Regions from separate parts of the Homo sapiens genome. Here region 2 is linked to region 1. The links come from fine-mapping of genetic effects on gene expression. A gene starts in region 1. The other region holds a variant in brackets. All regions are shown on one strand. Distances are from middle to middle.

Region 1 (8,336 bases):
GAAGAGGATCAGAAACAGCACAGCAGGGAGATAGAGAAAGACTCAAGCTGGAGAGATGTTTGAAAGTTAGAACTGAATAGTGGTCCATTTGATGAAAGTGTCAACCAAAATCTAATTTACCTTCATTTGAAAATTTATCTCCTATTGTGCATCACAGTGAATAAATATTAAGAACACCTAATACTGGAAATATTAAATGATTTACAAGATCTCTAAGCTCGTTGGAGAGAAAAGAAACAATCTGGATTGAAAAAAGCTGAAGCATTCCTAGAATGTTGAGATCCCATCCACTTTGGCTGCTCTGGCCAGAATATTTTTGTCTTTAAAAATTAGCAACCATAAAGTGGGTTTTTTTCATGTGTTTCATAAGAAGAGTAAACTGAGAAGAGAGCAAAGTTTGCCTGGTTCCTCCCTTGCTGTACTCCCTGTCTCTACCCGCCAACCCCCCACCCCCACTCCACCCCCACCATCACTTTCACCTCTCTGGTCTGTTTTCTGTTGGACTCATTTCCACTATAATGGTGGCCACTATATCTTCCAATGGCACAGGGGCTGGAGAGGAAATACTGAAGATTAAAATATCACCAGTGTCAGAAAATTAAAATGATGCCTTCTTTCATGGAGGCAATAAGTAGATGCAAGTGTTTGCTATTATTGTCCTGATGTCCTTTGATTATTTTATTGTCCCCAAAAGTAAAGATGTCTTATATTTTTTAAGCTGAGAGGAGCCATCTTGTTCAATCTTCCATGTTTAGAAACAGGAAACTTAAATACAGGAATTGAAACTTTTCTCTCTCTGAATCCAGGGTCTTTCACTCCCATGCCTTCTCAGATCCTTGGCCTGAGTAGTTTAGACCAAGATTACATATTAAAGGTCTGACAGCCGATGTAGCCCACAGTCATGTCTTGCTTGGCTGGCACTGTGCTTTAAATTTTCTTTGAATGTTTTAAGATGGATTATTCACTCTTCAGTTTGAAAAGGCCCTGTCATTCTCCGTAGTCTTACAATTGGCCCGATTCACACATTCAGGTTACTTAACTGGCCTGTATAGGGATGCGGGTTTGTGTATGAAAGTAAAATACATAATATATAAAATCGCGATGCTAGGATTTTGTCCTTCCTGTCATTTTGTAGCTGCTTATCTCTTCAGAGTTGTTAGAAGGCCTAAATAAGCTAACGGATGTAAACCTTTATATAAACTTTAAAGTATGGTTTGCTCATGTGAACCATTATAAATTATGTAACTAACACTTAATTACCTGAGTGCAGATACAATGTCATACACTTTATTTCCCCTTCTTCAAGTCACACTGACATTGGATTTCCAGTTAAACATCCCTTGTTTGGCACAGTGAAGATCTCACAGAGGGCAAGGGATGGAATTATACAAAAGAGAAGAGTCTACGGACTTTTGCAAACATTTTCAAAGTTCCTAGACCTCCAAGAAAGTGCTTGGTTATACACTTTCTAGTACTTAGAGACCAGAGCAAGTTTCTAGGACTTTATAATATACATACTTTGTATTCATTTTATCTGTGGCTATAGCCTTAATCTTGTTTCACCTCTGTTTTCTCGACTACTTCGAATACGTGCAAACCTGACATCTTGTGGAGCCTTCTAAATTGCTTTAAATTCTTTGTGGAACAAAATAGAATATAATCAATAAACATTTATGAGATTAATCCATATGAAACTGCTGTTTCAAAATGGTTTTAAAAACCATTAATGTCACATATTTATAGTACTTGTCTAAATACACTTTAGTGCTTAACTGCCCCATAATTCAAGCTCCTGAGGATGTGCCAGTCCATGTGGAAGGATTATAAGCTAGAGAGGCGGGAGATCTGGATTCTAATCCCAGCTCTGCTACTAAGTACCTGAGTAATTTTGGGCAAGCATCATTTTGCCAAACAAGTAGAATAACCCCAGTCCTGCCTACTTAACAACATTGTTATAAGGATCAAATGGTAGGCAATATGTCCACACTCTCTATAAAGTCCTGTTAAAAAATCTAAGAGGCTATTACACACTGAACTAAGCTCATCCAGAATTCCTCCCACTGAGCCCCGCTCTGTGCCCAGTCCCTTTGGAGTGTGCTGAGGGAAGTGTTCACCACCAATTCTCCTTCTCTTCTAATTACCTGCTCCTTCCTTTCAGCCCCTAACACCCAACCACAATTCCCAGTTTGCCAGTCTTTCCACACATATGATCTCCTTGGCCACCCTCCCCTGACACTTTTGCAAGGAAAGCATTATCAAGTATTTACAGATAGTTAAAATCTGAAGTTCAGACACATTTAGTAATTTTGTCTAAGGGCACACGTTTTTAAGTGCTACAGCTTTGATTTAAACTCTGTTCCTCTGATCCCAAGTTCAGAGCTATTTCACGCAGGGAATTCCACTCAAGCACATCCTCCCACCACTGCAATCTGGCAGCGTTTAAGAGCGCAGCCATACCATTTGCTAGTTCCATAAACCTGGACAAGTTACTCGGCCTCTCTTGCTTCAGTTTTCTCATCTGTAAAATGGGGATACTCATAGGACACAAATTTGTGGTGCACTGGCTTAGCACGGGGCCTTGGCACATGGTAAGCGCTTAATAAATGCTAGATTTTTAAAGAAGTTTGGGTACACCTTCCGAAATCCGGGGAGGCCACACAGTTTGCCTGTAGTTTTCGCGGAAGCTTGGGAGATATCTTTACACTCCGCCTCTTCCTTCTGCAGTCACGGGAAGCAGTTAGAAGCAGATCAGAAATCGAACACGTTTGCTTTTGCGATTCGAGAGCCCTTTCTGGCGCGGAGCTAGGGGCGGTGTTACGTAGCTGCCCTGAACTGAGAGCAGCGTTGGCCGGGGGCTAGGGAGCCGGGCTGTTCCACGCTCACTGTGCGCCTCGGGCGGCGGGGCTCGGGCTCTGTCCGAGGTGCTGAACTCCGGGGCTCCGGCCGCGCCGGCAGAGTGTGCCAGCGTCCATTATTGCCAGTGTCTGTGGGCATCTTCCAGAAGGCCGAGCATGGGGGTCAGGTGAAACCAGGGCGGTAAGTGCTTCTCCCATCATTTCTCAGAAATGCTTAGGTGCCTACTTTTTACAATTTCGTGCACATTTTCAGGATCATAACCTCTCACCGCCAGTTCCTCACAGGTTTCTGCAAAAACTGACGACCTTTCTTCCCCTTCAGTCCCTGCAAAAATCCAGACACCTATCACCCAGCCCCGCTCCGCAACCATTTCCTACAAGAATCCAGGCCCCTACGCATCTCATCCCCACGCGTCAATGCAAAAATAAAAAATGTTAAATCCGCCTTCCATTCCCGTCTCCCACAATTTCCTGTGATAAAAGCAAGCTGTCTCCTACCAGTTCCCCACTCCTGCCTGTGGCTAAACAGCATGGACCGACTTCTCGGGAGCTCGAGGTCCCCACCCGGGTGACCAATGCAGACCCCTGGGGGTGCGCTTACCTGGTGGGGACAATCGCCGAGCGAGGCCACCTGGGTCCAGGCTATAGGTAGTGTCATTATTATTCCCAAAACAAAATCAGGGGGCGTCCAGCACCCCTACCTGCAGCTGCGGGTTGGCTGCCAGAGGGCACTGCCAGACTGAACCAGCGCCGGGAGCTGGGGCTACCCCGGGCCCCGCGGGTCCTGTTGAGTCACTTGCCCAGAACTTCTTCAAGGTTCGTGAATAAAACCTCTGCGTCAGTTCCTTCAAATCGGTCCACCGCTCCTCCAAGTTGCGGTGGGAGCAGGGGAGTTTTGGGTTTGGTTTGGTTTGGTTTGGTTTTAAGAAAAAGAAAGAAGCATGAAAGAAAGATAGGAATCGCCCCCGGTTCCGCGCTGCGGGTGTGCAGGTCTCTGCGCAGCCCCAGACCTCCGGCTTGGTCTTCGGCCGGCTGTGCTGGCTGACGACGCGCTGCTGCCCGCTGGCGCCGAGAGCAGCTCTCCAGCCGCGACGGGCGAGGGTTGTGTGGGTGTGCGAGCTGCGAGGAAGGAGGAAGGAGGGGGCCGCGGGGGTGGGGAAGTGCCTACCTGCAGCCTCGGCAGAGGCGCCTGCTGCCCCACCCCCTCGACCCTAGCTCTTGGGGCTCCGACTCGCTCAGCAACTTAGCAGGGGGCTCCTAGACTCCCCGAGGGTGAGCGCGGAGCAGGCGCGGCCACTCCTGGGGTCCGGAGAAGTGAGGGGACGCTCCCAAAGTCTGACGTTGCAGGTCTCAGACCCTGGCAGGAATTTGAACTCGTGTCCCCTTTGTTCTCTCTGCGGCCCTGCCCTCCTCGGCTTTCCTTCACACACGCCCTGGAATCTCAGGCTGTCTGTCCAAGGTGTAGGAAAGAGAGGGAGAGAGGAGGGTGCAGTGCGATCCTCAAAACTGGGAATAATTTGATGATCAGGGCTGGTTCCACGGCCGTTGGATTTCATTCCAAATCAATGTTTTAGCCCACCCGCTACCTATTCCCAGGGCCTCCTGTGGAGTCGTTCGCGGACAATCTTCGTTTCCTTTTTACAAAGTAGTTAATAGTTGCTGCATATGATTGAAAGCATAAGGCATTGTATTTAGGAAGTAAGTGGCTCATGCTTGTAATCCTAGCGCTTTGGGAGGCCAAGGTAGGAGGACCGCTTGAGGCCAGGAGTTCAAAACCAGCCTAGGCAACATAGTGAGACTTACCAAAAAAAAAAAAAAAAAAAAAAAAAAAAAAAAGTCTCTACAAAAAAAAAAAAAACTAAAATGCTTTCCAAAAAAAATAGAAAGTGAGTGCCCCCTCCTCCCCTACCCTGCAGTGTCCTTCCCCCACTAATCAGTTCCCCAGAGGTAACCAGCATTTTCGTCTAGATACATGTATATGCACACAGGGGTTCTATTTGCCCTATGTTTTTTAAATCCCTACTTCTTCAGTCATTTTTAGTAATTTATATTTTCCTAGGATATTGTCCATCTCATTTACATTTTCAAATTTTCTGGCACAAAGTTACAAATAGTGTCACCTTATATTTATTTTCATCTCTAAAACTGTTCTGGGCCTCCTTATTGCTGATATTATTTATTTGTGTTTTCTACTGCTCCATTCCCAATTTTTTAAATCAAGCTTGCTGGAGGATTATCAATTTTATCTTTTAAGGGCAAAAATATTATTCCATAAGTTGCCTTTATCACTTAGTGTGTCTATAGTATCACTTAGAGAAATGTACCCTCCTAGTACCCAATATTTATAATGACTGCCTACTGTTTGTGGAGTTTTTCTCTCTAAAGCAGTTTCAAGGTTTATGTAGTCAAACACATGTCTTATCTTGCATGGTTTCTAGATTTCCCATCTTGCCTAGGGAGGCTTCGTACCCCAGAATCACCATACAGTTCCCTAAATGTTCTAGTAATGTATAGCTCTGTTGTTTAGATTACCATTTCATCTGGAAACTGTATTTGTGCACAGGGTAAGGTAAGGAACTGACAAAGATGAGAACCCAATTGTCCCAACACCAATTCAAAAAGTCCATTCTTCGCTCACTGATGTGAATGCCACCTTTATAACACTTTATATTTCTCAAAACAAACTCTACTTGGTTAATGTATGTTATTTTATACAAATACACTGCTAGATTGCAATAATTTACTTATGTTAATATAAGGTTTATTCCGTCTATATTAATAAGTAAAAATTGTGTTCTTTTTCCTTTTTAGGGGATGAGGGTTCTCATTCAACTTTGGTGCAAGGTTATGGTAACCTTATAGAATGATTTTGGACGCATTCTGTTTTTTCCTACACTCTGGAATATTTAAATTATCAAGTTAACTATCAGTTCATTGAGGGTTTAATAGAACATACCCATGAAACTGTCTGGACTTGATGGATTTTAGAAGGATAGATCTTTGATTATCTTTTCAAATTCATTGATGCTTGTTGGCATATTCATCATCTGACCCATCTTGAGTCAATTTTGGGTAATTTATATTTACCTGGAAAAAAGTTCATTTCATCTACCTTTTTTAATGTATTGGCATAATGTTACATATTATGCTCCTTTATAATTTTTCATCTCCTTTAAATCTATTCCTATATCCCCTTTTTATTCCTGATGTTGTGTTCTCCCCCACTATTTTTCATTAATATTATTTTGCTGTAGTTGAATTATATGATTTACATCATTTCCGTGTTGTGGTCTATTTATATGACAAATAAAAAATACTCCACAAGCATTTTCCCTCACACTTAATGTAGAAAAAAAATGTACATTCTGTGTTTTGGGGCACAAACAATACAAGTACACCTGTAAAGTTAATTGTACATTAGTACCTGTATTAGTCCTCTCTCACACTGCTAATAAAGACATACGTGAGACTGGGTAATTCATAGAGGAAAGAAGTTTAATGGATTCACAGTTCCACATGGCTGGGGAGGCCTCACAATAATGATGGAAGTCAAAGGAGAAGGAAAGTCACATCTTACATGGTGGCAGGCAAGAGAGCTTGTGCAGGGGAACTCCCGTTTACAAAACTGTCAGATCTCATGAGACTTATTCACTACCATGAGAACAGTATGGGGGAAACCGCCTTTGTGATTCAATTATCTCCACCTGGCTCTGCCCTTGACATGTGGGGGTTATGGGAGCTACAATTCATGAGATTTGGGTGGGACCACAGCTAAACCATATCAGCAACCTTTACATCTTTACTTTGGACTACAGGCAGTATAGTGTATTGATTAAGAGCACAGACTCAGGGGTCAGACTGCCTGTATTTAAATCCCAATTCCAGCACTCACCAGCTGCATAGTCTCTGATGAGACACCAAATGCCTTTGTGTCTCCGATGAGACACCAAATGCCTTTGTGTCCATAAAATTGGGTTAATATTAGTATCTACTTTCTACAACTGGGATGAGAGGCAGCTAAGGTAAAATATGTAAAATGTTTAGCACAGTGTCTGATAGGGAGTAAGCACCCTGTATGTGTTAACTACGCTTATCTGCCTGATCTATCAGTATTTAAATTAAACTGTTAAGGTCTCCTAGGAGGCTTGAATTCATTTTGGTTTTCAGCCAAAATCTACTATTGAGTCTGTGCTATGTGACCTGATCTGCCTTCTTTTGGAGTGCTGTAGATTTAGAATAAGACAGGCACGTTCTCTGCCTTTGCAAAGGAGCATTCTAAAGACTTGTCAGCATCTCTTTGGAGATGTGTGTGTATGTATGTGTGTAAGTGAATCAACTCACACTGTTCCATGAAGCAAAAGGACTTTTGCAACCTATTCCAAGTCTGCTTTCTTATGGATATCTCAGCTACTTCCTCAGAGATGCACCTTACATGCTAGGCCTACTTGATTAAAAACAACAACAGCAATAGTACTTTTTTTTTAAAAAAATTGCTAATAATAGTAATAAAAGCTTTGAATATCTACTACTATCAATGCCCTCCAGCTTAAGACCACCAGGGACTCAAGTATAGTTGAACAAATTGGCTGTATCACTTGTTGCAGTGAGGGAGGACACATACCATGGGTAATCGTGGGGTGTCTCACTTAAGAGGGTGCTAGAAAGAATGTGTGATGGAATTTGGGCTGTGGTTGAGAGATTTGGGGGAGGGTTGACCCACTCTTACACAGGCAGTTGGATCAGAAGAGAATCACATCAAATGTTATTTTACCACCTACAAGAAAATGATGATGTGATCCCAGGTGCCATGGTTCCCTGTGCACTCTGTTTTAAGTCAGTGAAAGTAAAGTCTTTATTGACCTCTTGAGCAGTTTCCCTCTCCAGAGTATATTACCAGTCAGTCATTATCCATAGGGAAGAGAAAGTCAGATTCAGAGGTGAGCACTGAGCTCCTTAGAGCTGTCAGCAAGAGTCATCTGATTCACTGAATTCACAGAGATTGGGAGGTTAAGTTCCAGGAGGAGGAGGTGTGTCCCTAGAATCACATGGCAAATTCAATACAAGGCCTGCCTGGTCTCTTGAGACCAGCATTGTGTGATTAGATGTGTGCCAGAATATTGTAAATTTTAACATAACTTTTACTAGATTTTTATCACAATGTATTACAGGTATGTTCTAGAAAACACACATAAAATATGGACTTCTTTTTACCATCCTTCTATTCCACTTTTTAATTTTAAAAATTAGTTCCAAATATTTGTATTGCACATTTAAACTGGCTCACAATTGATGCAAATAACATAAAGCCACATCTTAAACAAAGAGGTGTTTCTTTTCTTTTCTTTTTTTAATTGTAGTAAAAACACTGACCCTGAGATCTACCCTCTTAACAAATTAAGTGTACAATACAGTATTGTTAACTACAGACACAATGTTATGTAACAGATCTCTAGAGGGCTTGTTTTCTCTGCATAACTAAAA
Region 2 (8,336 bases), 58 kb after region 1:
CGTGTCTTCTATTTCAATTTTTTTATTAATTTTATGGAGAGGGAATTTACGTGTTCCTCTATACTCCACCACCTTTCCACACCTGTCTCCTCTCTCGGTCCCAGCTCCGAGTTCTTTTCACTGCATGTCTGACAGAGAAATGTCAGGTTACAGTAAAATTATAATTAGATCTATAGTCAGCTCTTATCAGATGGCATTAAACAGAGGAACCTGGAATAAAGTACAATGTTCTCTAAATGGAGAAATATTTTTACATGAATATTTTGGTATTTGTTAATGTACTGGAGTTAATAGAGAGGTGTAGGAGGTGCTGAATAGACATCCAATTTGTAGTGATGATTGCCAAATTAAGATTAGCACAGAAACCTGTCTGGAGTGGGAGGTAAAGTCTGCTGTTCCAAAGAAGAGGTTTTAAAGGTGTAGGTGGGAAGAGTGAGAAAAACGGAACATAAATGCTCTTGGGACAGGAATGAGAAAAGAACCTGCAGGTCCCCTGAGAGCCAGGAGTATTAATTTAGAAGTAGGTGTGACAGCCAGCCCAGAGATGACCAGCAATGGCCATTCCTTAATCCTGACCTTGTTGACATCCTTTAAAAGCATCGGATAACTTACAGCTTGCAAAGAAATTTCATATATTTAGCATTTTAAGTAAAATGGGTAAATGCATGTGATGGCCTAATAAAAGGATTTGTAATGGGATCCCTAAATAGACAAGGGCATAATTATGATTAGCCAAGGACAATCACTGGGAAGAGGGACTTAGCTGAAAGCTGCTAACATTCAACATTCCCTGTAGCCAGAAGACTTAAGTGCTTCAGTCTCAAAGGTGGAAGAAATCTGGGTGGCAAATGACAGCATCCACTACAGTCTACCCGTTGTGCCACTCAGATCCACTTGTTTTGTAAAAGTCTTGAGAGCAGCTCCTTCAGGATTCTGGTGGGCCTCTTTTCCTGGGGGAAAGGCACAAAAATAAAGTAATTGGCTGGACTGTAGCGTTGCCATTGCCACTGGCCTCAAGATCATGACATGACTGGTCCTTATTATCTTCTTTCTCTATTATGCATCTGAGAGTCCCCTTACTCTTGGTGAGCACTTCTGATCTAGGCATTTTGCCTTTTGTGGGTTACCTGTGGTCTAAACCCCAAGTCATTATGTCTTTCTCAAGCTGTGGCAGCAATACTTGACCATTTCCCATGAAGATTGGACAGGGGAGTACTGACAGAAGCCCCAGTGGATCACTTTGGTCTCAAACACATTTTTCTCTGCTCCCCTTTGGATGACAGCAGCCTTAGTTTTGCCTAATCGAAGTCAATTACCACAGCTAGAATGGTGACTCCTTTCTTTTTCTGTCAGCACAAATTGCCCACAGTGACCATGCAGCAGCCATAATATGAAATTTAATGGGACTTGTATAGCCGTTGATGGAATCATTTCCCCAACCTGAGGTCAAGACCTCCAGACTCACAGACTCCAAACTTGTGGGAACAGGATGCAGACATTCACTAACTGGGAGTAATGTAAGTAGGACCACTTCTCCCTCCACCTCTTAGTTCCCAGACCCACGTAACAAAGAACCACTGAAGTCCTCTGAGTAGAGAAATGGCGATTGCACTGCAGTAATGTTGAGGATAGGCCATAAGGAATGTATCTGAAGCAGGAAGACCAGTGAGGAAGCTGTTAGAATTGTCCAGGCAGGAAATTATGTGGGCCTAATAATGGAATATTATTAGAGCCTGACATTTTCTTCAGCAGGAAAGCAAGCTCTTGGCATCCAATTAGTGGTTCTGGGTACATCAGGAGGCATACTGTAGGTTAGGAAAGACATTTTTTAAGCTTTCCCTGCACTCATATAAGCAAAACTATTACAGGACCATTCCAAAAATAACTGAGCCAAACTGGTGAGCTGCAGCTTGGCTGTACGTCAGCTTGATCAGCAGAGACGCAGAAATACTGTCACTCCAAAAAAAAAAAAAAAAAAAAGATAGACAGGTAGACTCTCTGTATCAGCCCCACCCAGAGTGGGGCCAGGGATTCTGCCCCCAGCCCTTGCTCTCTGTTTATTCCTCTGTCCCAGAACGTTTATTACCATCCACCTGGAATTCAAGATATTTACCTGTGTAGTTATCACCTGCTCTAGACCCTGTGATCCCATAGAGCAAGAAGCTTGTCCTATACTATTCTCCACCCTGACCATGGCTATTACAGTCCCTGGCCCAGAGATCAAGTTCATTAACTGTTAAATGGAATTTTAAAATCTTGCAAGTGAGATCATGAAACTACTATCAGTAACCAGTAATAACAACAATAATCATCATAATAGGTAACATTTACTAGGCCCTTCCTATGGGCCAGGCACACTGCTAAGGGATTTTGATGGATTCTCTTAGTTAGTTCTTCCAAAAACGCTATGAAGTAGGTGTTATGACCATCTCCATTTTACACAGAAAGAAACTTTAGCAAAGCCACCCTGCTACTAAGTGGTCGTCCCATTTGTCAAAAAAAAAAAGACTTAGGAGGGTGCTACCACTATGGCCCTGCAAATGTGATACCCATTTCAGCAAGATTCCAGACCTATCTGTGAGATTAATAGCTACTAGGCACTTTTGGTGATTACTAGGAACCAGTGCATGTTCGTCAGGAACAAGCCATGCTAGCTTAACCTCGTTTCTCTTCCCGTTATTCATTCCACCCCAGCATCCCTGAAAACACCCTTCATCAATGGCCATGTATTCCAAATCCTGCCCCACGCCCCCAACCCTGCTGCACAACCTCCAGCCATATGCTCCTTTGAGAGTTTCACACATGCCTTTTACGTAGGCATTTATTTTCAAGGAATCAAAGGTGTCATTGCAGTTTCTCTGTCATTCCTCCTCCACAGCTGCTGCCCTGTCCCTGCACAGCTTCCAATAGTTCAGCCTTGGGTAGACTGCACTTGGAAAGAGGAAACCCAGCTGTCTGGGATCACGTGCACAGCAATATCGACTGGAGCCCTAGGACCAGAACAGCCTCACCCCACCCTCCTCACCCTGTGCCCAGCCTCTAGGTTTCTCGGCTTGCCCATTAGAAGGACAAGTTTGCTCACAATGGCCTGGGCTTTAATAAGAAGGAGGTGGAACTCCACCCCTACTGCTGGCCATGCGATTTGGCCATCACCTCAATCTCTCACTTCCCTCAGGAGTGAAAAGGTTGCTTCAGGGAGGTAGCAGTAAAGTACAAACATGGATATAAGGAACTCCTACAGCTCAACAGCCAAAAACCAAATAACCTGATTTAAAAAATGGGCAGAGGACTTGAATAGACATTTCTCCAAAGAAGACATACAAATGACCAACAGGTATATGAACTCACCTAATTATCACTAAGCATCAGGAAAATGCAAATCAACACCACAGTAAGACATCATCTCACACCCATTAGGACAGTCATTATCAAATAATTAGTGATCAAATAATGAATAATTAGAAAATAATGAGTGTTGTTGAGAATGTAGAGAAATTTGAGTCCCTGTGCACTGTTGGTGGGAATGTAAATTGGTACAGCCGTGGTGGTAAACAGTATGGAGGTCCCTCAAAGAGTTGAAAATAGAACTACCATATGATCCAGCAATACTACTTCCGAGTATTTATTTAAAGAATTGAAAACAGGATCTTGAAAGAGCTATTTGCACTCCCATGTTCACTGCAGCATTATTCACTATAACCAAGAGGTGGAAACTACCTAAATGTTCATCAAGGGATAAATAGATAAACAAAATGTGGTATATACATACAATGGAATGTTATTCAGTCTTAAAAGAAGGAAATCCTGCCACATGCGACAACATGGATGAACCTGGAGGAATTATGCTAAATGAATCAAGTCAGTTACAGAAAGATAATACTGGAGGATTCCACTTACATGAGGTCTCTAAAGTAGGCAAACACATAGAAGCAGAAAGTAGAGTCGTGACTGCCAAAGGGGAAGCAGAATGGGAGTTGTTGCTCAGTGAGTGCAGAGTTTAGTTATGCAAGAAAAAAAAGTTCTAGAGGCCAGGCATGGTGGCTCATGCCTGTAATCCCAACACTTTGGGAGTCTGAGGCGGGAGGATTGCTTGAGCCCAGGAGTTTGAGACCAGCCTGGGCAATATAGTGAGAGCTTGTCTCTAAAAAACAAAACAGGCCAGACATGATGGTTCATGCCTGTAATCCCAGCACTTTGGGAGGCTGAGGTGGGTGGATCATTTGAGGTCAGGAGGTCGAGACCAGCCTGGCCAACATGGTGAAACCCCGCCTCTACTAAAAATACAAAAATTAGCTGGGCGTGGTGGCGCATGCCTGTAATCACAGCTACTTGAGAAGCTGAGGCACGAGAATCACTTGAACCCGGGAGGTGGAGTTTGCAGTGAGCCGAGATTGGGCCATTGCACTCCAGCCTGGGCGACAGAGCAAGACTCTGTCTCAAAAAAAATAACAATTATTTTAAAAAAGACAAAGTTCTAGAGATCTGCTATATAACATTGGGCTTATAGTTAACTACACTGTACACTTAAAAATCTGAGGGTAGATTTCATGTTATGTCTTTACCACATTTTTTACAGGAAAAAATGTGAAACGAATCCAGAATAAGCATCGTCTGTTCCTAACCACA[T/C]CATTTTTAGACTTAATTGAAAGGCAGGGGGAAGGACAGCATATAATCTAGAGCCATTTCACTCTGTCCCTCAAAATTTATCTTGACCTGGGCGGCAGCTATATGGGCACGTGTGTGTGTAAGAATTGGGGTTTATACAAAGAACAAATTCATAAGCTGTGTACAGCTTATAACATTTATATATTAGTGCAATTTCTGTGTAATGGTATACTAAAATAAAAATGGAAACTAAAGGGTAAAAAAACAACTCAGTGCTTGAAGAAACTTGATTGACAAGATGAGGAGTTTAGACTGTCTCATGATCAGTGAACGTCATGGAATATTCTAAGCAGGGGAGGGTCCCACTAGGAGCTATGCTTTTTCTGGAAGCTTCTTGAAGTTTTTGGCCTTCTGTGCAGGCCATGGAGTCATGCCCTCACTCTCCCACTGCCCTAAGCCCCTTGAGGGCGGGATTCCTGCCTGCTTTATTGCAGCCCCGCTTCAGTGCCTGGTGTAGTCACTGGCATCTAGCTGGCTGACTAATTAAGGGTGGGGACGCCCTAATCGCTTCTGGGAAATCAATGGAGAAGGCGGGCTAGTGCTCAAGGCCAGCCCACTCAAGTCAACCAGCATCAATAGGGCACCTGCTGTATGCAGAGTCATGAAATGTTGCCTAGAGAAGCTGCTTCGACAACAGAAATGTTCCCAAATTTCCCTCCCCCAAAATAAGGGCCCTCTGTCTAGGTGGATTTTCTTAGAAGCTCTGGCTGACGGTTTTCAATTTTGAGTCCCACCCAAAGAGACTCTTTGATGTTATAGGACTTGCCTAAAGATGCAGCTTGCAGACTCCAGCTCAAGCAGTTTCCAAATGAAGCTTAATGAAGACAATTTTGGGGTTAAAACAATCTCTTGTTGCCATGGCAACACTGCAGGTCATTAAAGAGAAGGCATTTAGGGCTGGCTGGGCTCCTGCAGGTCCTAGGGCTGGTGGGAATCACAGTCCGTGGGGCAGGGGGAAGGGGGACCAGAGAGAAGACTAGTCAGAGAGGCAGAGGTTGCCAAAGTGCCCCATCCTCCTGCTAGGATGCAGAATGGAAAGGACTAAATATACGTGGCACACTCACACAGAATAATCCACCTCTCAGGACTGGTGATGTTTGCAGAGGGGTTGAGAAAAACACTCCTTACTCAGGGCTGATTCGGGAGGCTCCCTTAGCAGGCTCCCCGCATCTGGACGCTGCGGGATATCTGAAACTGCAACCAAAGAACAGGGAATGGGAAGCTGGAATATACACTCTCCTGGGTAGGTACCCCATCCTAGAGAGAGCTGAGGAAAGAGGGGAAAAAAGTGATAGAAAGAGGAAAGGATGATGGGAGGTCTTAAGACAATGAACACAGCCCTCTCTGCCTGGAGCCCCCAGGTAAATGCAGGAGAATCACAGGCCAGTGTGGCTCCGTAAGACTTTGTTGACCTCAAAACGGTCGCCAGCATTATGAGCAGAGTCAAAGAGAAATTTTGAACCCAGCTCAGAGGCAAAAGCTTTCCCAAGACATTTCAGCATCCATTCATCACCCCTGCCCAATTCAGGGCCTTTCCTGTCACCCTAACAACCTACATCTCAATAATCAGCAGGACTCTTTATCAGGAGGGATGAACAAAGTCAGCCTGCAAAGGTAATTTACCCCCAGTTCAGAAGGATTTGTCGTCTGGGTTCTTCTAGAAAATCAGACATGCTGCTGAGAGTCCCAGCTCCAGGCAATCAGAACCAAAGGCTCCCGAACTTGGTACAAGGGACTCTGCTAGAGGGCAGGTGCCCATTGAGCAGGCACATCAATAGATAAGGAAAACTCCAATGCTCTATAGCCCTTAATAACACAAATGAGGAGGCTGAAGAATTTCAGCTCTAACTGCAGTTAATCACAAAGGGAACTACAGGATATTCTGCAATGAGAGGTTCTACAGGATGTCATCAAGAATGTGAGCTATCACAGAATGGTAAATGTACAATCCCAAGACACAGAAGGGCACGGGAATGCAGGCCAAGCTGCTGGACCGGTTTGAAAGAGCCACTGCATGTGTTAGCCTCAAGCTGAGCACCCAATACAGCTCCCTGCAATGCTGTGAGTGGCCCTGCCCCATCATGGGCTTCTGCAGGAAAATAGACCTGCTTCAGGGCTAGAGGTTAGGGCCACAGATAGTGGCCTGGAGGTTGGATGGCCACAAAACTCCAGAGGTCACCAGCTAAAGGTGTCCCAGAGTCAGGCTTGGACATGGAGCACATGAAGAGGAAGAAGGGGCTGATCTGCTAAGCCTGGTCTTAGAGGGCATCTAAGTAACTCTAGGCAGAATGTCTGGGGGGTGAGGGTACCACAGACAGGGGGGACACCAGGCCACAGGTGCACTCAATGCAGCTGGTTCTGGAGGTAAATGGGGGCCGAAGCAGCCCCCAGGGGAGAGAGGACCGAGGTCTGGGGCAGGGTCCGGGGCCCAGACGTGGAGGCTGTAGTTAAGGGCAGGGAAACCAAGAGAGAGGCCCAGAGTTTGAGGGCCTCAGGGCTTTGGCTGTAAGTTTTCAGGAATCACCCAGCTGTTTTTTAGATGGGGAAGCAGAGACCCTGAGATCACACAAAGAGCCCCTTCTAGCCCCAGATCAAGTCCAAAGTCCAAGGTTCCAATGGACAGGAGCCTTCAGAACGTCCAAGAGGCCCCTGCAAAGTGTGGGGCTGGGGTGCCTTGCCATCTTGTAATAAACAGCAGAACTCAAGCATACCCCACTTTTACCCCAGGCTGTCAGGAACCTGGGAGTGTTCCAACAGCAGGAGATTGCCCTCCAAGGACAAGGTGCATTTTGCTAGTGAGGCTTATGCAGATTTAAAGCATGAAATACAAGAGAGATGAGGCTGTGCCACAGACCATCCTTCTTCTCTGCCCTTCCTTGTCAAAACACAGCCTCTCCTCTAAGTAACTTTGAGAAAAGTAGCGAAGACTAGTGTTTTAAAGGGGCCCAAATTGTTAGCATAATGGTAATGACCACATGCCCAGTCCAGCCCTGCTCACACACCTTGTTCCTGCAGCACCACAGTGGTTGAGTTACAAACATCCCAGAGAGATGGTTGGCGTGGAGCAAGAGCACCGTGCCTTGACTCGGGAGGCCTGGGATGATGTCCTGGCTTCTTCATAAATGGCCCCTGAGGACCCCTTTACAAAAGGATGTTCCAGTGTAATAGGGTGCCTGGTTGGAGTTTTCTTGTCGCTCTGAAATGTCAACTAAAAGAGACATTTGGGAACAAATGGTGGCACCTACCCCACTTTGGAAGTCCAGAGCACCACCAGCAATGGGGTCAGCCACTGGGTAAGAGGGTCAATTTAGAGATGCCATTTTGGAGACTAAGCCCTATAATTCCCCCTACCTTGCCCCCTGGACAGAGAGGAGGACAGGACATGGGGACAGGCACTATTCAGGAAACACTATATTTGTGAGAAGAGAGACTTTCATCCTCCTCTTCCCTGTGGGGGTGGGAAACAGGGTGTCTCTCCCAAGAAAACATTTAAATCTGGGGGAGTGCTTTCAAAATGCAAAGATTAGATTTGGTTCCCTGGTTAGGTATCTGCTTGGTCTCCAGACTTTCATCTACCCCTGTATGACCAGAGCTGGGAGGAACTCTCTGGAAAAAGGGATGCCATGGGGACTACAGCCAGGAAGACAGAAGGTCAAGGTCACCACCTCCAA

Which allele goes with the higher level. Positions count from the first base shown, and alleles are read on the strand shown. Sizes are in standard deviations (SD) of each study's normalised expression.
As copies of C replace T in region 2, the expression in tibial artery of the gene that starts at base 3,963 in region 1 goes up (large effect, 0.78 SD a copy in GTEx).

What was found. PIP is the estimated chance that this variant, and not a neighbour inherited with it, causes the effect.
Region 2: its variant is fine-mapped to the expression of ANKRD34C in tibial artery (GTEx, PIP 0.97).

Annotation. Positions count from the first base shown.
Region 1 is chr15:79,278,349-79,286,684 of GRCh38, reverse strand. ANKRD34C (ankyrin repeat domain 34C) reads right to left here and starts at 3,963. Exons shown (of 2, transcript NM_001146341.2): 1 at 3,457-3,963. It overlaps ANKRD34C-AS1 (ANKRD34C antisense RNA 1), which reads left to right and starts at 2,740. Exons shown (of 2, transcript NR_038997.1): 1 at 2,740-3,036. RefSeq lists a silencer at 3,639-3,837 and an enhancer at 3,489-4,028.
Region 2 is chr15:79,220,188-79,228,523 of GRCh38, reverse strand. All of the region lies in intron 1 of ANKRD34C-AS1 (ANKRD34C antisense RNA 1), which reads left to right. Among named protein-coding and RNA genes, the nearest start is that of MIR184, 15 kb to the right of the region's middle. The variant T/C (reference allele first, on the strand shown) is at 4,627.